Homo sapiens: one gene and its partner. The protein of the gene in region 2 purifies or fractionates together with the protein of the main gene of each other region. This does not show direct contact. Each region holds a gene or a part of one and is shown on either strand. Other genes may lie near its edges. The genes, in order: ARHGEF2 and ANKRD28.

Region 1 (16,000 bases), on a different chromosome or scaffold from region 2:
CCACCTAAAGGTGCCACCCTCACAGCTCTGGGTCGGAGATACTTCCAGCTGACCTGGAAGACAGCTGCTGAGCCCTGTGTCCCTGTGTGTGAAATGTGAAGCCCTGGTGTTTTTTTTTTTTTCTTTTCTCCAGGCAGGGTCTTGCTCTGTCACCCAGGCTGGAGTGCTGGAGTGCAGTGGCACAATCTCGGCTCACTGCAACCTCTGCCTCCCGGGTTCAAGCAATTCTCCCACCTCAGCCTCCCAGGTAGCTGGGAATACAGGTGCCCGCCATCACGCCCGGCTAATTTTTGTATTTTTAGTAGAGATGGGGTTTCACCATGTTGGCCAGGCTGGTCTCGAACTCCTGGCCTCAAGTGATCCACCCAACTCAGCTTCCCAAAGTGCTGGGATTATAGGCGTGAGCCACTGCACCCAGCCAGCCCTGGTATTTTTAGGCAGAGTAGCCAAGAGAGAAAAGTGGTGGACTGGAACTAAGAAGGCCGGCCCCCTCCTGGCCTGGCAAGCTTCGTGCACCTAGGTTTCCCGGCCCATAAAATGAGAACAATTCCCCATTCTCAGGATCCCCGTAATGGCTGAGAAAGCACCTTGTAAAGGCTTGATGCTGGTGGATGAGAGTTACAGAAGGGGAGGGTGCTGGCTGCTCCCCCAGCCTGCTCCCCATGTGACTTCAATTCCTCTTTCTAGCTGAGGGCCTGAGCCCCCTTCTCCTGATCTGACCCCACAGGCTCCAACAGGGATGTGAATTCATACCAGCATTTATACAACCCTAGACTCTCACCTCCTCCCCTCCCCCACAGCCCCAAAGTAAGTACCAACTGGGAACAGGAAGTAAAACCAACTAAAACCAAGAACTGAAACCAGCTCATCTCTCACTGCCTCTCAAAGAGGGACAGTAAATGAGCAGCTCCTGTGACGGGTAACCCCAGGGCCCGACATCATGGAGATCAACAAGGGCCTAGTGGGGGATGGATCTGACAATGAATGACACTGGGGATGGGGGCAATAGGTGGAGGTGATTGCTGAGCATGGCATACAAATACGATGAACACACTTTTCCTGATACCGGAATTCCCAACATTGGAACCTGTGTGCCCCTTTGTTTTTATCCTTGTATTTGTGAATTAAAAAAACAAAAAAAAGATTTGCAGTGGTTACTTTTGTTAGTGCCCCCTCTCTTCAGTGAGGCAGAGGCTGTCCTTGCGGTGAGAGGAAAAGGCCCCTTTCAGAGGAACTTAGGTCACTGCCCGGCTCTCTACTACCATCCTCCTCAGAATTGGCAGACATTATGGAAGACAGTACCTTATGGAGTTCCAGGTTTTTAATTTTCCCTGAATTTTTTTTTTAAACAACAAAATTGGCAAGAAGAAAATTCTTCGACATTTGGGGGCTGGTCGACATTTGGGGGCAAGGGTTCCACTGAAAAATCCCCCAAATTCACGCTGAGGTTTCAGGTCATGGTTGCTGAGGTGGAAGATGAGGTCAGGGCTCTTGGAGATTTTCCAACCCACCCTAGAACTTGTTTCTAAATGGCTGGGGAAGAGGTCAGTATAGGTCCCCCCGTTACTGCAGATGAAGGCAGAAGTCATTCTCTCCCCCACCCCTCAACTTCTTCAGAGATGTGGAGATAGGAGGCTTCGATCTCTAATTGCCTACGATCTCTTAAAAATATAAAACACGTGCAGTTGACTTTGGTACAAAAAAGAAAACAAAAGAACAACAAAACATTCTGGTCCCTGTGGGTTTTTTCCCTCACCCCCAACAAACCATTATGGCCACCCCAACCTTTATTCCATCAACTCCAGGAAGCCAGGTTATCTCCCAGGGCTTCCATGAAGGACGGAGAAAGGGAGAACAGCAGTAAGAGGTTGAGGGGAGAGGAGAAAGGGACATGGCCCTGCCCACAGCCCTCCTTTATTTAAAGGGCAGTAGGGTGCTGTGGCTGCAGCCTCTCCTCCAAGACGGATGTTGCAGGGGAGGGCCGTTAGGGCAAGAACCCAGCAGCTGCGTGGATGAGCCTGAATATACCCCAGTAGTGTTCAAGGACAAGGCCCTCTGATCCCTATGGCTTGGTTCCCATGTCCCTGGTCCTTTAAATCTCCCCTCTCCCCCCATAACTAATAAACAATAAATAAATAAATTTTCCTAAAGTTGCGGGAAGAAGGCATGAACCACTGGCATCTGTGGTGTAGCTTTCGGATGTCCCAGGGGGTGTTGTGGCCTAATTCCCCTAGCTTCTTAAATGGCCCCAGGTATCCAAGGATCCCAAGAGCTGGCAAGGACAATTTGCAGTTCTTTCAAATGTTCCCTCATCATTGGCAAATTGGAGTCCCCAAGGTTAGCCCCCTCAGTAATGTTCTTCAGTGGGGCACGGGGCAGGGGGGAGGGGCCCCCTTAGCTCTCGGAGGCTACAGCCTCCCCGTCGCGGCTCTCCGTCTCCTCCGGGATGTCCTGCATTCTGGTAAAGTCTGAAGGGGGACAGGACAAAGCCAGTGAGTTAGCAGAGACTCCCATGAGGAACTGTACCCCTAGACTAATGCCTCCCCATCTGCAGGCTCAGGGGGCTCTGGGGCTGTGAAGGGATGACAGGGTTCTGTAAATTCTTGGGTGAGAGGAAAACCTTTGGCAACAAAGTAAGCAAGGTATCCATACCTAGGTACCGGATACACTTTTACAGTATCCAAAGATACAATTTGATTAGGAAAATACAAAATACTTTAAGGTTAAAGCTTTTGGTAATTTTTTATTTCATGAACCAACTGTAAAAACTTGAAGTTCTTTGAAACTTTTTTTACTTTAAAAACTGGCCCCATGGCTCGTGCTTATAATCCTAACACTTTGGGAGGCTAAGGTGGGAGAATCACTTAAGGCCAGGAGTTGGAGACCAGCCTGGCCAACATGGTGAAACCCCATCTCTACTAAAAATGCCAAAAATTAGCTATATGTGGTGGCATGCGCCTGTAATCCCAGCTACTCGGGAGGCTGAGGAACAAGAATTGCTTGAACTTGGGAGGTGGAAGTTGCAGTGAGCTGAGATTGTGCCACTACACTCCAGCCTGGGTGACAGAGCAAAACTGTCTCAAAAAAAACAAAACAAAACAAAACAAAAAACTATACCTTCCCAGGCACAGTGGTATGTACCTGTAGCCCCAGCTACTTGGGAGGATCACTTAAGCCCAGGAGTTTGAGTCCAGCCTCGGCAACAGCACAAGACCCTCTCTCTAACATAAAAAATTTTAGAGTGAGATCCTCTGTCTGGGTCTCCGGGTCTCTTTCTGTCGCCCAGGCTGGAGCAATCACGGAGTACTGTCAACTCAACCTGCTGGGCTCAAGTGATCCTCTCACCTCACTCTCACTCTCCGTAGCTAGGACTACAGGCTCACTCCACCACACCTGGCTAATTAAAAAAATTTTGGGGGACCAGGCACGGTGGCTCACACCTGTAATCCCAGCACTTTGGGAGGCCAATGTGGGTGAATCACCTGAGGCCAGGAGTTCGAGACCAGCCTGGCCAACATGGTGAAACCCCATCTCTACTAAAAAATACAAAAAAAATTAGCCAGGTGTGGTAGTGCATGCCTGTAAATCCCAGCTACTCGAGAGGCTGAGGCAGGAGAATCACTTGAACTCAGGAGGTGGAGGTTGCAGTGAGCTGAGATTGTGCCACTGCACTCCAGCCTGGGTGACAGAGTGAGACTCCATCTTAAATAAATAAATAAATAAAATAAAATAAAATAAAATAAAATAAAATAGACCGGGTGCAGTGGCTCACATCTGTAATCCCAGCACTTTGGGAGGCCAAGGCAGGCGGATCATGAGGTCAAGAGATTGAGACCAGACTGGGCAACATGGTGAAACCCTATCTCTTCTAAAAATACAAAAATTAGCTGGGCGTGGAGGCATGTGCCTGTAGTCCCAGCTACTCGGGAGTCTGAGGCAGGAGAATCACTTGGACCTGGGAGGCGGAGGTTGCAGTAAGCGGAGATCTCACTACTGTACTCCAGCCTGGCGACAGAGTGAGAATTCCATCTCAAAAAAAAAAAAAATTTAGCCAGGCGTGGTGGCTCATGCCTGTAATCCCGACACTCTGGGAGGCCAAGACAGGTGGATCGCGAGGTCAGCCGTTCAAGACCAACCTGGCCAACATAGTGAAACCCCATTTCTACTAAAAATACAAAAATTAGCTGGGCGTGGCGGTGGGCGCCTGTAATCCTAGCTACTTGGGAGGCTGAGGCAGGAGAATCGCTTGAACCTGGAAGGCAGAGGTTGCAGTGAGCCAAGATCACGCCACTGCACTCCAGCCCAGGCAACAGTGCAAGACTCCATCTCAAAAAATAATAATGAAATAAATTAATTAAATAAAATAAAAAAATAAATAAATGAATTTTTTTTTGTAGAGAAGGTGGGTCTCACTATGTTGCCCAGGCTGGCCTCAAAATTCTGAGCTCAAGCGATCCTCCTGCCTTGGCCTCCCAAAGTGTTAGGATTACAGGCCTGAGCCGCCATGCCTTTTTAAAAAAGAATCTGTTTTTACTTCTAAAGGTTGGGAATCACCAACCAGTTGGAGGAGAGAGGCCCCTCCTGCTTCCTAGACTTCCACCACCCATTCATCATCAGACAAAACAGGAAGTCCCTCCCTAGAGTTACTACAAGCCTCACAGGTCAGTTAGGGCCCATTTGGAAGCCACAGCCCAATGGCCTGTACCCAGGCTGCACTCTACCTCTGGTCCATGTCTCCGCCAGGGTCTCACCTCGTGGACTGTGGGGCGGAGACAGACGGCTGCTACCTTCCTCCTCGCTGCCAGTGTCAGGGTCACTGCTGTCTTGCAGCCGCTCTTCGGGGCTCCCCAGTTCCTGCCTCTCTCGGTCCTCAAAGTTTCGATGGACAGAGCGAGTAGTGACAGGTAGATCCAGGCGGTCAGTGCCTCGGCTGGGCTGTGGACAGTGGGCAGGAAGAACAGCAGGTCAGGGACTGAGTAGTGTGAAGATTGGAGGTTCTGCTTGGCTGAAGGCAGCAGCTCTCCCCCCTGGGGCTCACCCATGAGTCCCCTTCAGGAGATCCACCACCAACTGGCCTCTTTCAGCACCACGACCCGAGTTAATTTCCTCCACCCCTGCACCCATCTACATTTCTTTTCAGTTCTCCAACCAGTATCTCAATATCCTTCAAGTCAGTTGACTGATTGCATTTGGGCTCAAATCCCCAATGGCCCAATTTCTTTCGGGCTCCATGGACCCTTATGTCCACCCCAGGTCCATTCACCACTGCAGGCCACCTTACCTGTGGGGGGTTGAAACTCAAGTACAGGGCATCGCCTGCGGGGAGGCTGCGCCGCCGAGGATCCACAGGTCTGCGGGCCCAGGGGGCCTCAGCTGGGAGTGGCTCGGTCTGGCCCAGGGCGGCCAGCTGCCTTCGAGCCTCTTCGGCCTCACGCTCCAGCAGTGCCCGGGCCTGCTCACTCTCCCGGAGCCGGGCCTCCAGGCTGCCAGCTTCGGTTGCCCGTTCTTCACCTAGCCGCCGGCAGCGCCGTAGCTCCTCCTGCAGCAGCGCATGTTGCCGCTGCAGTAATGCCAGTTCCGTGGCCTGCTTTTCAGGGGCCACAGGGGCAGCCCCAGCCCTGCCAGCCTCCCCATCCCGAGAGTTGGCTCGGCACAGCTTCTCCCGCCGCTCAGGGCCCTCAGGGAACCGGGCTTCCATCAGAGTGTCCTGCTGGGCCACAGCTGCCTGGGAGTAGAATGCAGGCAGAAGGGTTTATCAGAACCCCTGTGCTCTTCTACCCCTCGCCTTCACCCTCCAAGGCCCAGATCATCGCTCCTGGAGAGCTTGGATTGGGAGGGTATTTAGAAAGGCCTGTTGGGATGACCATGCCCCACCTAAACAGGCATCTCTAGCCTGGCTCCTCCCCTTCCCCATTCAAGCCCTTGTCCTACTGACCTGTAGGCCATGTAGAAGTCCATAGAGATTGACCAATCGCTGTAACGCCTCCTGAGGACAGACAGGGTGGGAACAGGGCCCCAGCTTTAGGATGGGAGAACTGCCCAAAAGTTGAACAAGGGTGGGTGTGGGGACAGTAGGATCCGGAGACATACTTGAATGTAGACGCTTTCCCCACCCCACTCCAAACTGGGCTCTAACTACTCAGACTAAGAACATCCTCCCTTCAGTCTCCTATACCATCAATTCCCATCTCACCTCTTGCGGTGATCTCAGCTGATTTCCATTTCGATCCTGCAGAAATGGGCAAGAATGGGGAGTCAGCAGGCACACAAATCCTGGGTGCCTGCCCCTGACAGCTTTGTGTTGAGGATCCAGAGGCTGGCTGTCCCTCTCCCACCCTCTTGCCAAGTCCCAGAACCTCTTGAGGACCTACCCTCTGGCTAGAGTCTGAGTCAGCTCTGCAGAGTTCAATGGAGCCATTGAAGGTTCTGGCCTCACCATCTGTTGAGAAGGAGAAAAGGATGGCTGAGCTCACTTCCCTGGGGCCCTGATACCACTTGATCCCTGGTACCACTCTACTAACTTTGGCCCCTCCCACCTACTACCTTGGTCCCCTGCCCTGGTACTCACTGGCAGTGACCCCAGGACTCGTGTTACCACCGCTGTCTGGTTCCAAGGGCAGGGCTGGCTCTCGGGGTGTCAAGAGCAGTTCCACTCCTGGCCCCACCAGCAGGTCTTTCAGACCCTCCACTGTGGGGAAAGAGGAAGAGGTGAGAACAGGAATGACACAGGACCCTGAGGGGAATGCCATTCACCCCCACATGTGGGACACTTGGGCATCTGGGGGAATGCCCCCTGCACTGGCAGTGGGGTTTCACTCACACAACCACTGATGAGGTAAAGGGCAGTAAATGCCTACGAGGCAGCAGAGTCCATGCAGCATGGACGATATGGAGCAGCAGCAAGGACCACACCTCCTCCCCTGCCTTTCCCAGGAACTGGCCCAGAAGAGGCACTCAGGGCCGTTTATGGTTTATAGGGTTGGCATCCCACTTGTCTGTGTTTGTCCATGTCTAGTCACATGTCCACATTCTGTGACGGTGAGTGCTTGAGCCTGGACTCTTCCCTGGGAGCTCCCTCACCCTCACGGATGGCATCCTGCAGCAGCCGCTCGCCACGAGGGGACTCAAGGGACTCAGAGCGGAAAAGGCCCCTGGGCAGGGTGGGCAGGGCCATCCCACTGCCACCATCCTCTTCGGCCTGGAAATGGGTCATCTCAGCAAACAGCCCGACCTTCTCTCGCAGCAGCTCCACCAGTGCCCGGTCCTTCTGCTGCAACTCCACTGCAGATAAGGAACAAGTGAGGACATGAGAGGACGTAGGGGTATGCAAGAGCGCCAGTAGAGGACAGCCCTAGGGGAGAGGGGTAGGGTGGGGCAGTGTGGCAGACTTAATTTTGTTATTTTGGCATTTATAAAAAAGAAAAAGCTTTCTGTTGGTCAGGTGTAGTGGCTCACACCTGTAATCCCAGCACTTTGGGAGGCCAAGGCAGGTGGATCGCTTGAGGCCAGGAGTTCAAGACCAGCCTGGCTAACATGGCAAAACCCTGTCTCTACTTAAAATACAAAAATTAGCCAGGTGTGGTGGCACGCGCCTGTAGTCCCAGCTACTCAGGAGGCTGAGGCACAAGAATCGCTTGAACCCAGGAGGCAGAGGTTGCAGTGAGGCCGAGATCACACCACTGCACTCCAGCCTGGGCGACACAGCAAGACTCTGTCTCAAAAAAAAAAAAAAAAGATTTGTGGAAGGGGTTGCAGGTTGTCCAACAGTGTTCATTCTTTCCATCTTCCTTTAATGAGAAAATGCATAGAAGTTTCATCTGGGCACACATGGCTGCCCAGTTAACAACTATGTTTTCCAGCCTGACTTGCACGTGACTATATTGCTACATGACTACATTCTGGCCAATGGATATGAGCATCTTCCAGATCTGCTCTTAAAAGAAATGGGTATAGGCTGGGCATGGCAGGTGGATCACTTGAGGCCAGGAGTTCGAGACCAGCCTGGCCAACATGGTGAAACCCTATCTCTACTAAAAATACAAAAATTAGCCAGGAGTGGTGGTGGATGCCTGTAATCCCAGCTCCTTGGGAGGCTGAGGCAGGAGAATCACTTGAACGTGGGAGATGGAGGTTGCAGTGAGTCGAGATCACGCCACGCCACTGCACTCCACCCTGGGCGACAGAGCAAGACCCTGTCTCAAAAAAAAAAAAAAAAAAAAGAAAGAAAGAAAAAGAAAAAAGGGTATAAACTCTATTCCTTTACTCCTCCTTGCTAGGTGTGATACAGGTGTGACAGTGGGAGCTGGAGTAGCCACTTCAGACATGACATAGAGATGAAAACTTCATGTTAAAGATGGCAGAGCTGCACCACTACTCTGCACTTCCCACTTTGAACTGTTATGTTGACAGCAATAATATTCTACCTTGTTGGGGTTTTTTTTGTTGTTGTTGTTACCCAGACTGGAGTGCAGTGGTGCAATTATAGTGTATTACAGCCTTGAACTCCTGGGCTCAAACAATCCGCCCACCTCAGCCTCCCGAGTAGCCAGGACTACAGGTGTGTACCATCATGCCTAGCTATTTTTTTTTTTTTAATTTTTTGTAGAGACAGGGTCTTGCTATGTATGTTTTGTTGCCCAGACTGGTCTCGAACTCCTGACCTCAAGAGATCCTCCTGTCTCCCAAATCCTTCTGGGATTAAAGGCGTGAGCCACTGCATCCAGCCAATCTACTTCTTTTTTTTTTTTTTTTTTTGAGATGGAGTCTCCCTCTGTTGCCCAGGCTGGAGTGCAGTGGCGTGATCTCAGCTCACTGCAAGCTCCGCCTCCCAGGTTCATGCCATTCTCCTACCTCACTCTCCTGAGTAGCTGGGACTACAGGCACCCGCCACCACCCCCGACTAATTTTTTTTTTGTATTTTTTAGTAGAGACGGGGTTTCACCGTGTTAGCCAGGATGGTCTCAATCTCCTGACCTCGTGATCCGCCCACCTCGGCCTCCCAAAGTGCTGGGATTACAGGCGTGAGCCACCGCGCCCGGCCAATCTACTTCCTTTTTTAAGGAAGAAGATTTTTGTGGTCTTTTAGTATAGCAGTTAAATCATACCCTAACTAATATAAGGCCTTACAGTGAAAAAGTAAGTTACTCACCCAACCTTGGTCTTCCATATTATTTTTACACACATGGTAGTATACACTTTACATTGTTTTAAACCTTGCTTTTTTCACTTAATATGTTTCAGTTGTGGATCTACACCAGCCCTCATAGAGCCATCTCATCTTTTTAACAGTTGCATAATATTCCATTGTGTGAATGTATTATAAATTACTAAGGAGCTCCTTGTGGGTGGACTTACTCTTAATTCGCCGCAGGTAAGCCTCATCCTCTGTCTCAATCAGGGGGAAGTCCTCCCTGGATGGGCATCTGGAGGGGTAACAGGTCGCATGCCATTGAGAGACAGAAGCTAGGTTATAGACCAGAATCAGCCTTCCCTCCTTCCCAAACATGCCTTATGCTTCCATCTTCTGATAAGACTCCTCAGCCTCACACCCTAGCTTTAATTTAGTCCTGACCTTCTCCCTTTTCTTTCTTTTTTTTTTGAGACGGAGTCTTACTCTGTCACCCAGGCTGGAGTGCAAGGGCGCTATCTCAGCTCACTACAACCTCCTCCTGGGTTCAAGTGATTCACTTGTCTCAGCCTCCTGAGTAGCTAGGATTACAGGCACGCACCACCATGCCTGGCTAATTTTTGTATTTTTAGTAGACATGGGGTTTCGTCACGTTGGCCAGGCTGGTCTCAAACTCCTGACCTCAGGTGATCCTCCGCCTCCCAAAGTGCTGGGATTACAGGCATGAGCCACCGCGCCCGGCCGACCTTCTCCCATTTCTTAGCACTGATTATCTGCGTTTACTGAGATATATCTCTCCAAAGGTCGCTTGGAAAGGCAGCACAGTGCAGAGGGTCAAGTACAGGCTTTGGCATCAAGCAAACAGGATGCAAATCCTGGCTCCACTGTTTACCAGGTGGTAACCTCTCTATTTCCTCATTTGAAAAATGAAGGTAATATCTTCCTCATAGGTTTTTCATTAGGATTAAATGAAATGTTAAAGTGCTTTGAACATAACAGAAGCTCAACAAATCAATTACAATTAATATTATTAATTTCCACAATTATAATTTTTTTTTTGAGAGAGAGTCTTGCACTTTCGCCCAGGCTGGAGTCCAGTGACAGGATCTTGGCTCACTGCAACCTCTGCCTCCCAGGTTCAGGTGATTCTCCTGCCTCAGTCTCCCAAGCAGCTGGGACTACAGGCACGCACCACCATGCCTGGCTAAGTTTTATATTTTTAGTAGAGACAGGGTTTCGCCATGTTGGCCAGGCTGGTCTCGAACTCCAGTGGTCCGCCTGTCTCAGCCTCCCAAAGTGCTGGGATTCCAGGTGTGAGCCACAGCGCCTGGCCACAATTATAAATATTAATACTATTAATAAAGAAGCCACTACAGATCTGTCAACAGGACAGGTTATTTTGAACTGCTTTCTTGGAATAGGCAATTTCATAATTTTTTTTTGGAGATGGAGTCTCACTCTGTCACCTAGGCTGGAGTGCAGTGGCACAATCCTGACTCACTGCAACCTCCACCCCCGGGTTCAAGCGATTCTCCTGCCTCAGCTTCCCGCGTAACTGGGATTACAAGCTTATGCCACCACGCCCGGCTAATTTTTGTATTTTTAGTAGAGACGAGGTTTCACCATATTGGCCGGGCTGGTCTTGAACTCCTGACCTCAAGTGATCTACCCGCCTCAGCCTCTCAAAGTGCCGGGATTACAGGCGTGAGCCACTGTGCCTGGCCTGCAATTTCATACTTTTATATGCATTTCTAAAAACCTTTTCAAAATTCCATGGTGCAGAAGTTAAAAAAAAAAAAAGGTTTACAAATTATAAAGTTGAGAACTGATTCCCTGAAAGCTAAAGAAAAATTATAAAAATCTTGGCTGGGCATGGTGGCTAATGCCTGTAATCTCAGCTCTTTTGGAGGCTGAGGTGGGCGGATAAATCTGAGATCAGGAGTTCGAGACCAGCTTGGTCAACATGGCAAAACCCCGTCTCCACTAAAAATACAAAAATTTGGCTGGGTGCAGTGGCTCATGCCTGTAATCCCAGGACTTTGGGAGGCTGAGGCGGGTCGATTACGAGGTCAAGATATCAAGACCATCCTGGCCAACATGGTAAAACCCCGTCTCTACTAAAAATACAAAAATTAGCTGGGCATGGTGGCGTGAGCCTGTAGTCCCAGCTACTCAGGAGGCTGAGGCAGCCCGGCAACAGAGACTCTGTCTCCAAAAAAAAAAAAAAAAAAAAAAAATTTGCCTGGGGTCGTGGTGGGCACCTGTAGTCCCAGCTATTTGGGAGGCTGAGGCAGGAGAATCGCTTGAATCCAGGAGGTGGAGGTTGCAGTGAGCTGAGAGCGAGACTCTGTCTCAAAAAAAATTAAAAAAAAAAAAGAAAGAAAACCTGTAAAAATCTGAATTAGAATTACACTTACACTTCATTCTTTAGGCATAATCTTCCAGAATCCATTTTAAACATCTTACCTGTGCTTTATTTGATGTTTTTTCCCATCACAATTAGACACATAGTTGACTGCCTCAAATCTAATGTGTGTCCAATAGAAGCTAAAGATTTGCTGCTTTGACACACTGATTTCCTTCTTGCTTCTATTGTGTTGAGTCTGTTTATGAGACTTGTTCCTCTCTAGTATCGATGCTTTCATTATCCTCTTTTTCATTCATTTTTAGAAAAATAAATGTAAAATACAATACAATCCAAATAACAGCCCTCTGCCTACAGATGAACATGTGAATGCAGCTGAAATTGTACTGTTGGCTGGCAGGTATGCCACCATGTGACAGCTCAAAGTATTCCCTTGCTTGTCAGCTCATGCTGAATTTGAAAGGGAGTTGAGGTTGGCAATGTATAAAATGTGGCTTTACAGGACATAAGAACATAGGTGACCTTTCCAGTCTTGGGCCATTTTGTCTCTCCCTCAACCTCTTCCCCCACCTCTGAATGCTGGATTCTGTTCCCAGGGAGTTCTATGGTTGGGATCTAATGCTGCAGGTACCCTGAGGTCATAAGCACATGCAGGCGGCAGGCAGACACTCACGTGCGCACGCTCTGCTGAATGACCCGGATCCAGGTGCTCCGGTCATCCCGGGATGCTGTGTGCACCTCGTACATCTCAGGTGGGGCTGCGCTGATCAGAAACATCCCTTTCTCCTGGTTGGCAATGTCTCGTACGATTAGATTCTGCAGCGATACCACTGAAGGCTTGTCCTGCCAGTCAGGGGAAAGGAAGGATTAAGCCTGGGAATCCTGTCCCTTGGCATATTTAGGCCTTCAATCCTTCTGGACGAGGACTGAAAGGACTGAAGAGTCATCTTACAATACCAGTTAAGAGCCAGGCACTGGTGCCAGCCAGAAGGGACTTAGAAATGTGTGCAACCCTTGACAAATTATTTAACTGACTTGAAGCTTTACTTTCATCATCTATAAAATGAGGACGAAAATAATCTTTTCCCACAGGTGTAAAAGTGCCTGTGCACAGTAACAGTACCTGTGAGCTGCTCTTATTTTTTATTATTACGGTAATAGTAACAATTATAGCTGTTTGACTCTGGGGGACTCCAGAGCTCTCGTGGGCTTGGGCAGGAAAGCAAGAAGAGACTAAAACACTTGTCTGTGCTGAGAAAGGTGAAGAATGAATGTCTCACCAGGGTAGGAAAGATGTACTTCTGGTCCTTTTCCTGGAGAAACACCAGTACATCTGTCATCAGCAGCACTAGCACATCTGGAAGGGGATGAAGGTGGGAGAACAGTCAGCACTAGACGGTCTGAGCAGCTGCTTCCCTCTTTCCCAAGGACCAGGCTTATCCCATCAGGTTAGAGCTCCCAGTTTCCCTCTTCCTGGCCTCTCTTCCCTCTGGCTGCTTGCACTTTTTCAGACCTCTCACACCTCACCCATTCTATTTTTTTTTTTTTTTTTTGATACAGAGTTTTCATCTTGTTGTTCAGGCTGGAGTGCAATGGTGCAATCTTGGCTCACTGCAACCTCCGCCTCCCGGGTTCAAGCGATTCTCCTACCTCAGCCTCCCAAGGAGCTGGGACTACTACAGGCGTGTGCCACCATGCCCGGCTAATTTTGTATTTTTAGTAGAGACGGGGTTTCACCATGTTGGTCAGGCTGGTCTCAAACTCCTGACCTCAGGTTTATCCACCAGTTTCGGCCTCCCAAAGTGCTGGGATTACAGATATGAGCCACCGCGCCTGGTCACACATTCTTACAGCTTAAAAACAGTGTGGGTGGGGGGTGGGGGGCGGGCAGGGTGCAGAAAGATTCATGTGCTATCAGACAAAACAGCGTTGTGGGCTAGCAGGAACCACAGGGATCACTCAGTGTCTACAGAAAACCCTTTCTACCTGACTGATTCAGGTTTCTTAACCTAGGGCCTACAGACCCCCTGGGATGTCAGGCTTCAGTGGCTCTGTAAACCTTCTGAAGGTGTGTAAATAGTTTTACATATTAACATAACTCGTGTATTTTTTTGGGTGACAGGGTCCAAGATTTTTGTGAGATTCATAAGGTTCCCCAGAGCAAGAGGGACCATACTTTTATTTTTTATTTATTTTTAATTTAATTTGATTCTATTATTATTTTTTTGAGACGGAGTCTCACTCTGTCGCCTAGGCTGGAGTGCAGTGGTGCCATCTTGGCTCACTGCAACTTCTGTCTCCCAGGAAAAAGCGATTCTCCTGCCTCAGCCTCCTGAGCAGCTGGGATTAAGGAGCACGCCACAACACCTGGCTAATTTTTTGCATTTTTGTAGAGACGGGGTTTCACCACGTTGGCCAGGCTGGTCTCTAACTCCTGACCTCAAGTAATCTGCCTGCCTTGGCCTGCCGAAGTGCTGGGATTACAGGCATCAGCCACTGCGCCTGGCCTATTTTTTATTTTTTGGGACCAAGTATCGCTCTGTCGCCCTGGCTGGAGGGCAGTGGTGTGATCTCTGCTCACTGTGACCTCTGCCTCCTGAGTTCAAGCGATTCTCATGCCTCAGCCTCCCAAGTAGCTGTGGCTACAGGTGAATGCTGCCATGCCTGGCTAATTTTTGTATTTTTAGTAGAGATGGGGTTTCACCATCTTGGCCAGGCTGGTCTCGAATTCCGGACCTCAGGCGATCTGCCTGCCTGATTCAGCCTCCCAAAGTGCTGAGATTATAGGGATGAGCCACCGTGCCCAGCCTGGACCACATTTTTTAGCCTTTAAATTCCATTTCTAATATCTAACTAAGGAAGACCTTTACGGCTATCTGACCTAAATTCTCCCTGTCCTGGCATATTCCCACTTCTAATTTTGAGCTTGGTAGGGAGGGAGAAAGTTTCCTTCCTCTCGCAGAGGACTGAAAGACCATCCCTCACCCACCCATCTCCTTCAACCCCAGCAGGCCCCTGCTTCAATTTCTTTCTCTGCTTCACACTCCAAGCTCTCAGATCCTATGGGGTCAGCACTCCAAGACTGAGGGAGGAAACAAAGATCAATTCCATAAAACTTGGATGTCACAATCAAGAAAACAGAGGGCGAGGCATAGTGGCTCACATTTACAATCCCAGCACTTTGGGAGGCTGAGGCAGGAGAATCACTTGAGGCCAGGAGTCTGAGCAAGACTAGCCTAGGCAACATAGCAAGATCTTATCTCTACAAAAAATTTAAAAATGTGCTGGGTGTGGTGGTGCAGGTCTGTAGTCCCAGTTACTCAGGAGTCTAAGGCAGAAGGATCACTTGAGCCCAGGAGTTTGAGTTACAGTGAGCTATGACTGCACCACTGCACCCCAGCCTGAGCAGCAAAGCGAGACCCTGTTTCTAAAAAAAAAAAAAAAGAGAGAGAAAACATACACTCCTCCTTTGCCCTTGGGGATTTTACTAAACTGTGGGCACACAGAAGGGGAGGGCTTTTGCTAAATGCTTCAGAAATAACACTCTCCAGCCTTGCTATTTTTAATCCCCCATGGTTTATATTCTTAGCTGCTGCGTGGGAGAGATGGGAAGGAGAGAAAGGGATAAAGGAAAGAGGCTGGTGAAGACTGACAATATCCAAACCCAGGGAGCAGGGATTTCATGACACAGGTACAGAGGCTCAGGCAGGCTTTGGCCTCAGGTATCACAGTTTCCTATTGTCCCTCACATCTCATCCCCAAAGCCAAGGCCTGCTATTCTCTTGCTTTGATTTAGGTGAGAAAGACTTTGCCAGTGCAGACAAATTCTGGAAAGAGAGCCTGGGAAAGTGTGCCCTGGCCCCTGATCTGCTCCCTCTGCCCTGCTGTCTCTTCTCCTCCCTGCCTGTCCTTCACCGGCTCAGTCCCCTCCTCTGGGCCTCCTCTGGCTGCGCTCCCCAAAGCTCTTGCTTACTCCCATCCCTGGTAGCTGGGATTCCAGCTGGGGGAATCAACTGATCCTGTCCTCCAGTCTGAGAGCTTCTTTGTCTTCCTCAGTAAAACTAGTAGCTCTCTAGGCATGCAAGGACCAAAGAAATTATAAAATACTGATAGGGAAGGCCCTGTATGGTCCATAAAGTTAACTGCAGAATTCAGGCTTTTCTGCCACAGAGATCCTATTTTTCTCTCCCACTGAGTCTCACTGTTGTATGGGCTGCATAAAGGGAGGTTGATTCTTTTTTTTTTTTTTTTTTGAGATGGAGTCTTGCTGTGTCACCCAGGCTAGAGTGCAGTGGTGCAATCTGGGCTCACTGCAAGCTCCGCCTCCTGGGTTCACGCCATTCTCCTGCCTCAGCCTCCTGAGTAGCTGGGACTATAGGCGCCCACCACCACGCCCGGCGAATTTTTTGTATTTTCAGTAGAGACAGGGTTTCACTGTGTTAGCCAGGATGGTCTCAATCTCCTGACCTCGTGATCCGCCCGCCTCGGCCTCCCTAAGTGCTGGGATT
Region 2 (16,109 bases):
CTAGGATATTTTAAAAAGTATCACAACTTTAAAAAAAAGACCTCTAAAATGATGAGTCCTTTTCCTTAATTTCAAACTGCTTCTCAAGGTAATCAAAATTATGAAGAAAATAACCTAACTTTTAAAGACATTACTTAAATGCAGTACTACATACTTGCTAACAGAGTAGTTTTTCTCCCTTTGTTCCTTAGTTTTGGCATATTAGGTGTATTCTAGAAAACTAACCTGTGTTAGTTTGGCCTGTTGAATTTTTTACTTATATTCTTTTGGAAGGAAGTAATTCTCTTAAGGCTGAAATCTAAAAATAGTCATCTAAATATTGATTTAAACCTTAAGTTCATATGTGTAACTGTTGAATCTACACTTACTTGGAAAAGTCAGTGAAACTCTGTTTTCGTAAGTACCTGCTACGTAAGTACATGTGTGTTGGGAGGAGGAAAGAGCGCAAAGTCAGCATTCTTCTAGTCCCCCATTATAGTGTTAAAATGTTACTAGTCTGCCTGTCTATAAAAACCTTCCTTCCTTTGAGGCACATACCATTTGGCTAGGTGATCCTTCTATTTCTTGTTGCTATCATCTGTCACATCTCATACCCCAGTTCCACATCTGGATCATGTTTGTCTGTCATCTAGGTGATTTCATTTCTTTGTAGATGACATTTTGAACATACTTAACTATTTAACAACCTCCACACCAGCAGTCATCTGTACTTGGCTGTAACCACCTCCACTTGGCTGTAACCACCTCAATGACCACATCCTACAACTTGTCTCATTTGCTGTAATTACCTTTGCTTCTGTATGTTTGTTCTTATCTATCCTGGACACCGTGAGCCATTGCTTTTAACTGCTCAACAGTCACTTATACTCACTTTTAACAATTATATATTATAAATGATAGTTTTGAATCTTCAACCATTTTCTGAAAAATGTGATAGAGTTTTTACATGGAATGTTCTAACTAGCAGACCATTGATTTCTTTGACAAAGCACCCTTCCTATAAATTAAAGGAGGAGCAAAATAATGAGGTTTATGGAGAGTTTTATTAAAATATCCATTTTTTTAGAGAATGGACAGTTAGAAGGTATCTGTATATGTCAGTTACAATTAATAACTTCATATGCTACACTCTTTCCTATGATGGACTTGGTAGCAGGTATAGTCTATATCTCGGCCTTCAGTATATACTGTCTTTTACTGTCTTTTATCTTGTACTGGTTAGATTTTTACGTGTATGACATAATGCCCTATTTAAGTTGCATAAGGAGTTTGAAGGTGATATATGATACCTTATAATTCCTTGGCATGGTATGTATAGTAGAGATATGAATGTCTAATAATTGTTTAATCAGTGCTGTGGTATTTTTGTTGAGTGTTTTAAAAAGTAAGGTATTCTTGCCAAAAGACTTTTAGATAATTTCAGTGTACTGGATTGAGTAGAATTGAGCCAGATCTCACCATTCTTTATGAATTTTTTTAATATTCACCTAGATGTAGGCAACTTTGGGATTTAACATTTCATTTAGAAGTCATGAGGGTAGATGCTAAGATAATGGGCTCTGTATTAAGTTTAAAACAGAGTTTGAGAGCATGAAATGCACCTTAGATATTGATGTAACAAGTAACATTCTTCATTGTATAAATTTGGAAACTAAAAAAGTCCCAAATTTCTTAAACTCCAATAAGCACTGGTTGCTTAAGTCAAAAACCTGGGAGGTTTCTGATTATCATCTTCTCCATCACTCTTGTAGCCAGTCTATTAACATGTCCTATAAATCCTATTTCTAAAATATATTTCTTTTTTTTTTTTTTTTTAAATGGAGTCTCGCTCTGTCGCCAGGCTGGAGTGCCGTGGTGTGATCTCAGCTCATTACAGCCTCCACCTCCCAGGTTCAAGCGATTCTCCTGCCTCAGCCTCTTGAGTAGCTGGGATTACAGGCACGCGCCACCACACCCAGCTAATTTTTGTATTTTTAATAGAGACGGGGTTTCACCATGTTGGTCAGGCTGGTCTCAAACTCCTGACCTCATGATCCGCCCACGTTGGTCTCCCAAAGTGCTGGGATTACAGGTGTGAGCCACCGTGCACGGCCTCTAAAATATATTTCTGTCTCTCCACCTATATGATCATGTCCTAATTCAGATCACCCACTCTGTTGGATTACTGCAGTGGTCTCCTAACTAGTCCTTTGACTTCCATTCTTCTACCCCTTTAATCCGTTCTTCGTATCAAAGCCACATAATGTTTTTAAAGCAAAAGCAAATCATGACTTCCTTAATTAAAAATTTTTAATGAGTTCTCAATTGATGAAAAATACAAACTTTATAACTTGGTTTACAAGGCCTCTCTATCACATGACCATACCCACTTCTCCAACTGCATGTGATATTGTCCCTCATGATTGCTTCCCCAGCCACATGGGCCACCCATTAGTTCCTTGTCTTTCAGACATTTTTTTTTATTCGAGAATTTATCACAGTTGCAGTCATATAGTATTTATTTGTGTGTATGGTTCATTAGAACAAGGATTGACTATTCATAATTTTGTTTTCTCAGCTTGGCAGAAAGACTGGCACATAGTAGATGAATGTATACTAGGTGAATGGATGGGGCAGATAAGTGATTGGCTGACTAGATGTTACTGAGCCTGTTTCTCATTTAGAGATTTGATAACAGTACCCACCAAAATGGTGGCTGAAGATGATTGAGAATATTTGTGGTAACTGTTTCCATCTCTTTCTCTCTCCTCTGATTGTCCTTAGCTTATCCAGGAAAATATGAATTATTTTCCAGCAGATTTCTGATTATTGTTTCTAGTACAATATGTTACAGCTCAAGTTTCTAACTCATTTTATTTATTGAAGATTTAAGTAGCCACATTGTACTGGAGTATGGATGTTGGAAGAACAGGGCTCGAAGGATATATGTCCACTCATAGATAATTAAAGGAAGAGTAAGATTATCATTTAGAGTTAGGCTCAGCTCCAAGTACCAGAGATGCAAAATTACAGTTTCTTAAACAAGGCAGGACTTTTTATTTCTCTCTAACATAAAAGTCAGAAAGTAGACAGTCCAAGGCTTGTATGGCAGTTCTGTTTGGCAAAGTCCTCAAAGACCCAGCTCCCTTCTAGTGTAGTTTCACTACCCTAGACTATGGTCCTTGTTTGGTTTAAGATAGTGGCCAATCATCTTTGTTCCAGGAAGCAAGCTGAATATGCTAGTTGGTCTTTAAGAAAGTTTTCTGAAAGGCACACAACACCTACTTAAAATTTTGGTCAAACTTTTTCATGTGGCTCCTAGCTACAAGAGAGCTGAGAAATGTAGTCTTTATTGTGTGAGGCTCTGTACTTACCTAAAGCTGAAATGGAAGCCTGGAGGAATGGACACAAAATACAGATCTCTGCAGAAAACACATGTAATATTAGAATGTGCTAACAATCTGCAGTATACAGTACTATTAATATTGGAAGGGTTAACAATTTATTATTACGAATGTAACGTACCAGTGGGATCACACCACTTGAGATCGTCAAACGATATTGGTTAATGGCCATTTTGGCATTATGACTGCATAAAAAATAAGTGTCCTGGATCATAAATATATTACCTGCAGAGAGTTAAGTCTGATCTATTATGAGGATTTTGAGTTGTGTTTTGAATACCTAGTGACTTTCTTGCAGTGGCTCTAATAATCACATAGATAATTGCATGGATTCTGGCCTGTGTAGCCTAGAAAGCAGCTATTCCTTGATTTCTCCCCACTCACCCTCTACCTCATTTTCTTTTAACTCTGTTCATAAGACTTTTTTTTCCTAAAGTATATGGATAGATGAGGCGTAGCTCAAGAAGATTGGTGAGGATTCTTGATCTGTCAGAAATGTTTTCTATAACATTGTTTGAACCCACTTCCTTACCATCTTTCACCACAAGCTTTTTATTTTCAAATACTCAGAGACCAGCTTGTTACTTGCCACAGAGTAGCCACTTAATATACCCTGAGTATTCTATTCTATGATAATACGGAGTTCACAGATGTGTAAGACAAAAGGTGAGGTTTAGGTTGGATCTTGTTGCAGAAAGGAAAAATCGTTTGTGTCAAAAAAAGAAATTCAGGTGTAACAATTAGGAACCCAAAAATTATCTTCCAGTGACTTAATGTTTTTATAATCAGTAAAAAGGTTTAAGCCAGCTTTACCATTATGTGATTCCATTAATAGTAGGAGTAAGCTCTTAATAGGATACATTTTAGTATAAAGAATAGAAGGATTATAAAGCTGTCAGAGTTGAACTTGTTAGCTTATTAAAAACTTAATCTAATATGGCCTAAAAAATAAGTACCAAAGAAAATAACCACATCCCCTTGATATTTCTCTAAGTGGAAAAAAATGTTGAACTTACAGTTTGCACAATCTTTATCAGCAGTTTTTTATCAGAAGTACTTTCTCTGTTTCTAAGTTCTTAAATATTCACTTGTCTCCTTTTAAGATGTGAGTTCCTTGAGGGTAGGAGCCTGTCTTATTCAATAGAAGAAGACACAAAACAGTGCTGCTAATTTAAATAATTTAAAAACTGACATATTTCTCTTAGTATTTTTTATCTGCTTTTGATTTTATAATATACCATGGGCTAGTACTTTCTATCCTTTTTCCCAAAGGAATTTTACAGTCCCTAAACTGTAAAATCTAGTGAAGGTAGAAGAATGGAAGAACCTGTAGTCTTTCTTGCCTAAGTTTACTGCTCCCTCTCCCCAATTAACACTTAGTATGTGCTTGTCTAGTTACTAGAGTCTAAAATGAGCTTTTAGCAGACTCTCAAGAGATCACTGAAAAGTGTGGGGACTTGGCAACTGAATGGGATCTCCAGACATTAATCTGAATTACCTCACTTGTACTGGGTCAAGAGGAGGAGGAGTTTAATAGCCTTTGATCCACTCACTGGCTTCACAAGGGATATCATTCAGCTATCCCAAATATCCATAACAGTAAGGTTATCTTGTTTAGATTTCACAACACTATGAAGTAAATTCTGTTAATGTCATTTAATAGATGTTAAAATGAGCACAGAGAGGTTACTAAATAAGTGAGTAGCCCAGGATCCCAGAATTAGGTTAGTGGGAAGCCTGGATTAGAACTTCAGGCAATTTGACCACAAAATAGCCTACATTCTCAAGCACTGTACTGTTACTCTATTTCTCTTAGACAAAAATCTTTGCAGGTTATTTTTTTCTTATATAAGTGTCAAGAAATTTAGGCTTAGGGAATTTAAGTGGTTTGTCCAAGGACACAGCTAGGAAATGATGGAAGCAGAATTGAACTTCAGGTGGGCTGACTCCTGAGCCCTTAGTTTTAACCATCACCCCATACCTTTGTTTTATATCCTGTCAACTTCTGAAATTTTAATTGTTCACTTATTAGAGATATGAAACTCACTTTGTTGCACCTTAATGCCACCTATATTTTCTGGTTAAAATATATGTATACCAACACACCCCCACTATTCTTGTTTATAAATCTCCACCCTTCCAGAGTCTCGTGACGACAGAATTCATTTCAATGAAATTATTTATAGGTGGAAGAAAGTGGAAGGAGACAATATGTATGAACACAGTCCCTACCTTCAAGGAGTTTGTTTTCTGGTTGGGAAAGACCTAAGTGTGGAGGTTGACTTAGAACAAGAAACAGGATGTACCTGCTTAAGTCTAAGTAGGTGAACTTAGGTACTAGATACTTTGGAACAAGTTAAGATTGTTAAGATAAAAAGAGATTTTGCTTTGTGGGCTTGGGAACCCTGAAGATGAAATATAGGATATTGTTACTATAGTTGTTTCACTTTCAGATATTTCAAATATTAAGATTTTTTGATTCAGCTATGTGGAGATGGATAACATAATTGATGTATGTTCAATATTTACATACCTTTAATTTGGCATAAAAGTATTTTATATATTTTAAAATATAACTAATGAATTGTTAGCATGTTTTAATTGGTACAAATATGTTAGAGTTATTGCTTCTTCCATAGATTGATACATTTTATAGCTTTCAATGGTTCTTGTTTTAAATTCTGACATTCTTATATTTGTATCATGCTGGGATTTTTTGTTTTTTTTTTCCTTTTTATGGTTTTAAGACTTGCTTTGAAGTACCCATTTAAAAATAACTCGTTTTAGAATATAGCAATAAATAGTATATTCCTTTGTTACCTAAACTTTTCACAACCTTTATAGGTTACCTGTTTGTTAAGATCACTTTTATAAGCTAGTATTACAGGTTGCAAAGATCTGGAGATGAGTGGAGAGAAGAGAGTGTGTCTGTATGTGTGTGTACTCAGTGATAGCAGAATAGATTAGAAAGAGTATGTGTTTAAAATAACACACAACTTTATTAATTTATACAACTTTGGGTAAAATACATCATTTCTGAGTCTGTTTTTCCCTCTATAATGGGAATACAGCAAGGTTATTGTATTAAATGAGAATGTACAGCACATAGCATATCACAGATGTTCAAAAGTAACTATTATGTTTATTATTGTTTATTAATAAAAATGCTAGTTAATATGAAGAACACAGATTGAAGGGGGACCATGGTATTTTCTTTGTAAGTTTTCTCTTGAGAAATATCCCCCATGTTGGGTAAACAGAGAAAGAAGAAAAAAAACGATGAAATGATTGGCTTTGACATTTATTTATGGCTTTGGGAAATTTATAGGGAGGGAGATTATTTGTATTACCCTGTGCCCTTTTGACATAGGTAATTCAGGACGAAGGACATTTTTTTTTTCATGTACCTCTTTAACAGATTTTTAAGGCTTTATTCCCTATCCAAATGGGAAGGTAGGATTATTTTATTTCTTCAGTGAAAAATCAAATGATTTATATAATTTTAGAGTTAGGATTTCTACATTATGAAATTTTTGCTTTTCCCTTTAAAATATGAATCAATGATTGATTAAATTCACCAATTTAGAAATTGTTAGACAATCTTAAATTTCATTTGTTTAAGCTTTGCATTCTAGAAAATAAAATACACCTGGCAGATTAAAACTGATCTTGGTAAAAATATGAATAAAACAATTTCATGGTTTTTATAATCTAATAAAATATTTCTCCATCTTTAAACCTTTTTTATGAGTCCATTGCAGGCATATTCTTACTGCAACTGTCATTATAGGGTTAAACATTTGCTTTATTGTAACACACGAAAGCAGTTAAGCCGTTTGGAATTGTTTACTTGCTAAAACCACTGTTAGTCAGCAGAGGCAGTACACCAGATTTCCTTGTGGCTTTTAGTGGAAAATGTTAAAAGCGCACTCATTTTTCAGTTATAGAATTTTTTAGTTTGATTTGGATTAGTCACAGAACTGGCATGAACCTTCTAATTGTGAAGGCTGTCCAAATGCACTATTTTTTTCTCCTGCTAGAGGAAGTTACATCCCGAGAAGTAGCTCAGATCTCTGGTAAGTGTAACATGTGAGCATTACTAGGCATTTCATCCTGTGGGTCTGCAGTCTTTGCTCTTCAGACTGTTGCTCCGTTGGAATGCTTCTGTGGGACTGATACTGAGGTTCTATAGATATTTTTTAAGGACCTACTCATTTGGGGATGTCAGTGGTGTTTTGCAAGATCATCTGAGGAACAGGAAAGCATTTGAAATCTGAAAAGGATAACTGTGGCGGTTTTCACAGTGGAAGGAAACTATATTGGCAAAGAGGCAGATGACTGAATAAAGTAGTTGGCTCAAAGAAGATGCACAGTCTGCTATTTTTTTCTCTGAATGAAGACTGTTTAATGGAAGCTGTATTCATGTGGAGATCAAAGGAAACACTGGAATGATACACTACTATGTTTTTCCCCCCCCTTTTTTTTTTTAAAGAAAACAAAAAGCCTGAAGCAGTAATTTGAGCTCAAATGCCTTCTAATTCCTTCACAGCCTGCTTGTTCTACTAGGATTCTCCACTAACACCATTTCTGCCTGGTGCCTGTGCCCTTTTGCTGGAGCAGCCACAGACAACTGCCTGATGGAGAAAGAATGAACGCTCTGCCTTGCTTATGCTATCGATGGGAATAAAGCTAACTGTGTTTCTTCTATTATATGGGAAACCTGGATTAATCAAGCTGTATTCTAGTACCAAGAGTCGTATTGTCTCTTGTGGTCTGACTCATCACATGTAAACGTACTGCAGCTTTGCTATTAATGCAGAGTGGTTTTTTTTTTTTTGTTTTTGTTTTTTGCCCCTTTCCCAAACACTGAAAGAATTGTTAACCTCTGAGCTTCATTTTCAGGATTTGTGCTGAGCTCTAGATCTTTTTTCTGTGAATAGTATCTGCATTAAACCAGTGATGAAGAAATGAAGACAAATTAGAAGTGGAAACAGAATAGTGAGATTTTATTTTTTATTTTCAATTATAAGCAAAACAGCTACTGGTAACTATATGACCTTGCAGGCAAGAGTGGGTATCGCTGTGATCATCTCTGTCACAGCAGTTGTTTCTCATTTCATTCTATATTGTGTGGTGTTGTGTCACCAAAAACAATGATTGTTTTGTGCAAGTAAATTTCAGAGATAGAGCAATAAGACTATTTTGGTAGAGGAAAAATATTTTTAAATGAGCTTGGACTCAGTTTTAGTTATTGACATGTTGGTGTGAAATTTCTTCTTAAGTATTGCAGTAATCCAACAGAAATAATAGAATTTCGTTATATTTAGGAAGTTACAAATTATGTAGTCATAATTTTAAACTTGTTTTTCCAGTAGTACTTATTAACTTTAAAAAAAAAAAAAACCCAGCTGTGCTGTTCAGAGAATGTTTGTAAGTGTTGTACAGAAGAGGAGGAAAAACTACTTGTGCTCTTCCAACTGTGACTTTTATCACATAGCTTGGAATTTAGTGTTTTAAAAGATCGAATGAGTCGAGTGTGTATTGTTGTTTTGGAGGAGGTAGAAGATGAATCTCCTGCATTCATTTCTAAATTGCCACAGGAAAATAAATCCCTACATTCTCCACCTTCTGGAAATGTATTGGTAAGATATGTAAGTTTATATGTTTACTATATTCTACTGAACTAGTAGTATAAATCTTGTTTTTTAAGAATAGATGTAAATTTCCAATAGTTTCTTTACAAACCCAAATTAAAGCAATACGTGTGTAGATATGATGCAGTATTTTTGTATAAAATGCACATTTTTCGTTTTTACTTTTTTGAATGCTGAGATAACATTTCAGTCTTTACTATGTCTTAATCTCTTTAAAAGACTGTTTAAAAATAATTTGAGAATTAGTAGTTATGGCAACCACGTTTCTGTTTTCATTTTGTGGTTTCAGAAACTGATGTAACAAGAATCAGGAACTCTGCATATTTTAGGAAAGGTTGACTACCCCCAGCAACACTAAGGCATGGCCTTTTCTGTAATGAATTTTATGTATTTACATATAAGACTTTATATGAGATTCAGTCTTCATCTTTAACCTTGGTTTTAGTGCTACTGTCAGCTGGCTCCTTGACTAGTATAGTATACCTTATCAAGAGGCTGTATCGTTGATTAAGAAATTATTATATTTAGTTATGCATGTGTTTGTCTTTTCAAGTTATTTAAGTATCCAGTATTTTTTGGTCTTTGATTAGTGGCTATTTTCATCAACTGCCAGGTTTGCTTTCTTGGGATTTGTATCTTTATACATGTAATGCTAATCCATGTAAGATAATTTGATGCCCCAAACAGACCTTTTCAAAAAAGCCTTCCTTCATGGGCTGGAAATTGCTTAAAAAGTTCTGTCCCACAAGTAGATGTTGAGATCACACATTTGTATTTGGAAGAGTCTTTCTTTTTGTCATATACAGAAACAAAAGGCTTCTACTTACAAGAAATAAAATCTGATTTTGTTTATTATACTACCTAAATTGGGTCAAACTGAATTGATTTTTTTTTTTAATTAGGCCTTTTTTTTCCAAGTAGGAATCCTGTACTTTGACATGATTTGGTTTTATGAAACTTCTGGCTAATGTCAAAAGTGATTATTGCTACAGGGAAGAAAACTTGTAGATTCCAGAACTATGTAAAATATCCTTAGTCACCCCACATGGATGATTCTAATGTTTTTATTACTCTCTTCTATTTTAGCCATCACTGGTGCAAGCTATATTTAACGGAGATCCTGATGAAGTTCGAGCACTAATATTTAAGAAAGAAGATGTTAACTTTCAGGTAAAACAGTTAATTCACTGATGCCAGCCTTTAAAACTGCTTTTTAAAATTCTTTCCTAGAATTGTGATTTTTGTTTACAAGACATAATATAACTCTGTAACAGTTGTTTTAAATGAGGGCAGGAAGGTATTGAGGCAAAAGGGAAAACACTGGACATATACTCAGGGCAGTAGCAGCCAGTAGGGGTCTTTTGTTCTCCCAGCTTTTTACTTTGAAATTTTTCAAACATAGGGAAGTTAAAAAAACATGCTGACTACCCATATACCTTTCACTTACTTTTGGCATTGATAACATTTTGCCACATTTGCTTTCTGTATTTATTAATATACAACTTTTACATATATATGTAGTAAGTTGCAGAAATCATGATACTTCACCATTAAATACTTAACTGTGCATTTCAAATGAGGATTCTTGTAAGTGTATATCTAAATATAAGATCAGATTTGCTTTTTGTAAATAATCATGGTGAGTGTTTTACAATGGTGCTTGATTAATTTTTGTCAGATTAGGTTTTCAGTAAAGTCATTGTTGGAAAAGTTTTCAGACTTAACGATACAGTAGTATATTCAGTGCTGACATGATGGACAGTTTTAGAAAGGTGGATATATGGATAATTTTCTCTCTCTGTTATGTTTTTTCAGTGGCCAGTATTTAGTTTACTAAGTTGTGGCTGAAAGTACATTACGTACTCTAACAAAATTACATCCACTAATGTATATATTTTTACCAGAAACAAATGTACCCCTGAGTTATGGAGGGGGTGAAAAGTCATATGATTCACAAAGTCGCTGTGGCAACACCAAAACAGATGACCTAGAAATGATTGTGGTTTTAAGAAAGCACCCATTGCAAGCTCATTTTTAACTCTCATCTTTCCTCCTTTTTTTTTTAATATAATACTGCTGTGACCACTTAATGTTAGGTAGATACAAAAAAGTTTTACCTTATTTTTAAAATAATGAATTATCTGAATAGATTTGAATCATTGGCTAAAACTGTTGTTAATTTTAACATTGGGTAATGAACAGAATGCTATCATTATATATTTTTTAAAATTTTTTCTAAGTGAATTGCCTTCAAGTTTATATTTAGTTGGAAACATGCACCTAATTCAGGATTTATGTATGTATGTATGTATGTATTTATTTAGAGACAGAGTCTGGCTCTGTTGCCCAGGCTGGAGTGTAGTGGCATGATCTCCGCTCACTGCAACCTCTGCCTCCCGGGTTCAAGCGATTCTCCTGCCTCAACCTCCCAAGTAGCTGGGATTACAGGCACCTGCCACCACGCCCGATTAATTTTTGTGTTTTTAGTAGAGACAGGGTTTCATTCACCATGTTGGCCAGGCTGGTCTCAAACTCCTGATCTCAGGTGATCGGCCCGCCTTGGCCTCCCAAAGTGCTGGGATTACAGGCGTGAGGCACTGTGCCGGGCCATGATTTATTTGTTTTAAATGAAGTGTCTGGCTACTTTACCCAGGGTATACTGAAGAGTATGCGTTTCTTAGAAAATAGCTCAAGGGGTATAGACGCATGAAAAGGTGGAAAACATGTTTTCCATTTAACTCCTAAGGTTTTCTTGTTATTTTGGTTTTATTTTAATAGTACTGACAAATACTACCTTGATTAGAAAGTTTGAACTATAATTCCATTTACCAGGGCTAATTTCTCCATCATTACAAAGTTTATTGTAGCTGACATTACTTTTATGTTATATTTAATCAATTTATCCTAAATTAAAAAAAAATTCAGAGTCATTGAGAGCATCAGCTCACTCATCAGTAGGCCTTTCTTGAGAGTAACTCTTTGACAATTGTCTTCAGTGATACAAAGGTTTTTGACAACAACTTTTATGATTGCTTTTAGGCCTTTTCTCTCGTGACCCTTTCTTAGTAGTTGAGAGTGTTGCCTTAAAGTCAAGATTTGTTAACTTTTTGGCCATTATTTGAATTTAAGATGGTAAATATCATCTGATTTTGTCTGATAAGGAATCATATGGGGTTTTAAAAGGCAATGGGTGTTAAATGCACTGACTTTTAATAGGTAATAAAATATTTTTAAGCTTTATGTCAGTGTGACAGTCGTGTTTTTCCAAAGTAAATTTATTTAAATAAGTATTTGGAGAATAACGTTGGACTTTTTGAAACTCAGGTTTCTCTTAAGTTTTTTGAAGTTGTTTTTATTCATTTTTAGAATGGATATAAGTTCAGATTTATTTCTCTACCATTAAATAGTCATTGTATAATTTTAGATGAGTTTCTTTAGTCACACCCTGAGGTTTTGAATATTGTAGACCACTAAACAGCACGTTTCTTAGTAACACACCTAATAGATTTTTCTTCTTATTTTAGTGGGTTTTAAAAAAAATTTGTGGGTACATAATAGGTGTCTATATTTATGGGGTACATGGGATGTTTTGGTACAGGCATGTAATGTGAAATAATCATATCATGAAGAATTAGGTATTCATCCCCTCAAGCATTTATCCTTTGAGTTACAAACATTCCAATTACATTATTTAAGTTATTTTAAAATATACAATTAAGTTATTATTGACTATAGTCACCCTATTGTGCTATCAAATAGTAGGTCTTATTCTATTTTTTTGTACCCATTAACCATCCCCACCTCCCACTCAACCCCCCATTACCCTTCCCAGCCTCTGGTAACCATCCTTCTGTTATGTCCATGAATTCAGTTGATTTGATGTTCAGATCCCACAAGTAAGTGAGAACATGTGATGTTTGTTTTTCTGTGCCTGCCTTATTTCGGTTAACATAATGATCTCCAATTCTATCCCTGTTGTTGCAAATGACTGGGTCTGTTTTTTTATGGCTGACGAGTACTCCATTGTGTGTATGTACCACATTTTCATTATCCATTCATCTGTTGATGGACACTTAGGTTGCCTCCAAATGTTAGCTATTGTAAACAGTGCTGCAACAAACATAGGAGTGCAGATCTCTTCGATACACTGATTTCCTTTATTTTGGATATATACCCAGCAGTGGAATTGCTCGATCATATGGTAGCTCTATTTTTAGTTTTTTGGGGGACCTCCAAACTGTTCTCCGTAGTGGTTGTACATTCCCACCAATGGTGAACAAGGGTTCCCTTTTCTTTACATCCTCACCAGCATTTGTTACTGCCTGACTTTTGGATAAAAGGCATTTTAACTGGGACAAGATGATATCTCATTGAGTTTTGGATATCTGATGATTAGTGATGTTGAGAACCTTTTCACCATTTGTGTGTCTTCTTTTGAGGAATGTCTATTCAGATCTTTTGCCCATTTTTTATCAGATTATTAGGTTTTTTCCTGTAGAGTTGTTTGAGCTCCTTATATTCTGGTTATTAGTCCCCTGTCAGAGGGGTAGTTTGCAAATGTTTTCTCTCGTTCTGTGGGTTGTCTCTTCACTTTGTTGATTACTTCCTTTGCTGTGCAGAAGCTTTTTAACTTGATGTGATCCCATTTGTCCATGTTTGCTTTGGTTGCCTGTGCTTGTGGGCTATTGCTCAAGAAATATTTGCTCAGACTAATGTCCTGGAGATTTTCCCCAGTGTTTTCTTGTATTAGATTCAGTTTGAAGTATTTAATGCATTTTGATTTGAATTTTGTATATGGCAAGAGATAGGGGTCTGGTTTCATGATTTTGCATGTGTTTATCCAGTTTCCCAGCACCATTTATTAAAGAGACTTGTCTTTTCCCAGTGTATGTTCTTGGCACCTTTGTCAAAAATGAGTTTGCTGTAGGTGTTTGGATTTGGTTTTGGGTTCTCTGTTCTGTTCTATTGGTACACGTGTCTGTTTTTGTGACAGTACCATGCTGTTTTGGTTACGATAGGTCTGTAGCATAATTTGAAGTTAGATAATGGGATTCCACCAGTTTTGTTCTTTTTGCTTAGGGTGGCTTTGGCTATTCTGGGTCTTTTCTGGTTCCATATAAATTTTAGTATTTTTTCTATTCCTGTGAAGAATTCCATTGGTATTTTGATTGGGATTGCATTGAATCTATAGATTGCCAGGACATTTTAACAGTGTTGATTCATCCCAATCCATGAACATGGAATATTTTTCCATTTTTTGGTGTCCTCTTCAATTTTCTTCATTCGTGTTTTATTGTTTCCATTATAGAGATCTTTTACTTCTTTGGTTAATTCCTAAGTATTTAATTTTATGTATGGCTATTGTAAACAGGATTACTTTTTAGTTTCTTTTTCACATTGTTCACTGTTGGCATATAGAAATGCTAGTGATGTTTGTACATTGATTTTGTATTCTGGAACTTTACTGAATTTATCAGTTCTAGTTTTCTTGTGGAATGTTTAGGTTTTTCCAAATATAAGATTATATCACCAACAAACAGGTATAATTTGACTTCTTCCTTCCCAATTTGTATGCCTTTGATATCTTTCTCTTGTCTGATTGAGCTAGATAGGACTTCCAGTACTATGTTAAATAACAGTGGTGACAGTGGGCATCCTTGTGTTGCAGGTCTTAGAGGAAAGATTTTCAGTTTTTCCTCATTCAGCATGATACTAGCTGTGGGTCTGTCATATATGGCTTTTATTATGTTGAGATATGTTCCTTCCATATCCAGTTTTTTGAGGGTTTTTATCATGAAGGGATATTGAATTTTTTAATCAAATGTTTTTTCAACATCAGTTGAAATGATCATATGGTTATTCTTTATTTTTTTGATATGATATATCATGTTAATTGATTTTGTGTTTTGAACCATCCTTGCATCCCACAGATAAATCCCACTTGATCATGATGAATGATCTTTCTAATATATTGTTGAATTCAGTTGTGCTAGTATTTTGTTGAGGATTTCTGCATTAATACTCATCAGCGATACTGGCCTGTAGTTTTCTTTTTTTGATGTGTCTTTGTCTGGTTTTGGTATCAGGGTAATACTGGCCTTGAATGAATTTGGAAGTATTCCCTCCTCTATTTTTTAGAATATTTTGAGTAGGATTGGTATTAGTTCTTCTTTAAATGTTTGGTAGAATTCAGCAGTGAAGCCATTATGTCCTGGCCTTTTCATTACTAGAAGACTTTTTATTACAGCTTTGATCTCATTACTTGTTACTGGTCTGTTCTGGTTTTGGATTTCCTCTTGTTTCAATCTTGGTAGGTTGTATATGTCTAGGAATGTGTCCATTTCTTCTATATTTTCCAGTTTATCAGCATATATAGTTGCTTACAGTAACCACTAACAAGCCTTTGGATTTCTGCATAAGTCATAATGTCTGTGTAAGTCGTAATTTCTGTGTAAGTTGTAATGTCTCCTTTTTCATTTCTGATTTTATTTGGATCTTCTTCTCTTTTTTTCTTAGTCTGGCTAAAGATTTGTCAATTGTATTTTTTTAAGTCAACTTTTTGTTTCCCTAATAGATTTTTAACAAACTTTAATTTTAAAAAATTATATATTCATATTATTTGGTATGACATGAAGTCTTCTAGAAGTCATGTAACATAGTTTCACTAGCAAATACTAGAGTTTTATATTTGGCAGATTTTGGCCACAGATATAATAATTGACTACCTGAATAAATAGAGGTTTTTTGCTTGTGTAATAATTTAATCTAGAGCATGGTAATTTGGGGTTGTTTAAAACAGCAATGTCAGAGCTCTGGGTGAGCTTCTCTGTGAAACTCTTGGCTTTCTCATAATAAAGAGATGACTGCTGTATCATGTACTTATGGGAGACAACCAAAGACATTGGAAAAGAGACTCTCCTGTACATTTTCTTTTCTTTTCTTTTCTTTTTTTTTTAAAAAAAGGAGAAAACCTCTCTTCGAAAGTCCCCACAAAATTCCTTCCTAAGGTTCCATTGGTTACAAGACTACTCTAAACTAATTCACCAGCAAAGCAGAATGGGGTTCGCTTTTT

What was found.
Region 1: the proteins of ANKRD28 (region 2) and ARHGEF2 purify together in Homo sapiens (affinity purification with mass spectrometry; 3 studies listed by BioGRID and IntAct, with this or other methods). This does not show direct contact.

What each region holds. Positions count from the first base shown.
Region 1 is NC_000001.11:155,945,548-155,961,547, forward strand, and holds the end of ARHGEF2 (rho guanine nucleotide exchange factor 2), read right to left. Parts: intron 12,850-16,000; coding exon 12,773-12,849; intron 12,336-12,772; coding exon 12,166-12,335; intron 9,423-12,165; coding exon 9,355-9,422; intron 7,282-9,354; coding exon 7,081-7,281; intron 6,689-7,080; coding exon 6,569-6,688; intron 6,440-6,568; coding exon 6,372-6,439; intron 6,230-6,371; coding exon 6,194-6,229; intron 5,987-6,193; coding exon 5,936-5,986; intron 5,790-5,935; exon of another isoform or gene 5,726-5,789; coding exon 5,282-5,725; intron 4,936-5,281; coding exon 4,752-4,935; coding exon of another isoform or gene 4,722-4,751; intron 2,469-4,721; coding exon 2,395-2,468; 3' UTR 1,307-2,394; downstream 1-1,306. UniProt on the Homo sapiens protein: Activates Rho-GTPases by promoting the exchange of GDP for GTP.
Region 2 is NC_000003.12:15,789,321-15,805,429, reverse strand, and holds the start of ANKRD28 (serine/threonine-protein phosphatase 6 regulatory ankyrin repeat subunit A), read left to right. Parts: upstream 1-7,450; 5' UTR 7,451-8,908; coding exon 8,909-9,025; coding exon of another isoform or gene 9,026-9,034; intron 9,035-10,123; coding exon 10,124-10,207; intron 10,208-16,109. UniProt on the Homo sapiens protein: Regulatory subunit of protein phosphatase 6 (PP6) that may be involved in the recognition of phosphoprotein substrates. Involved in the PP6-mediated dephosphorylation of NFKBIE opposing its degradation in response to TNF-alpha.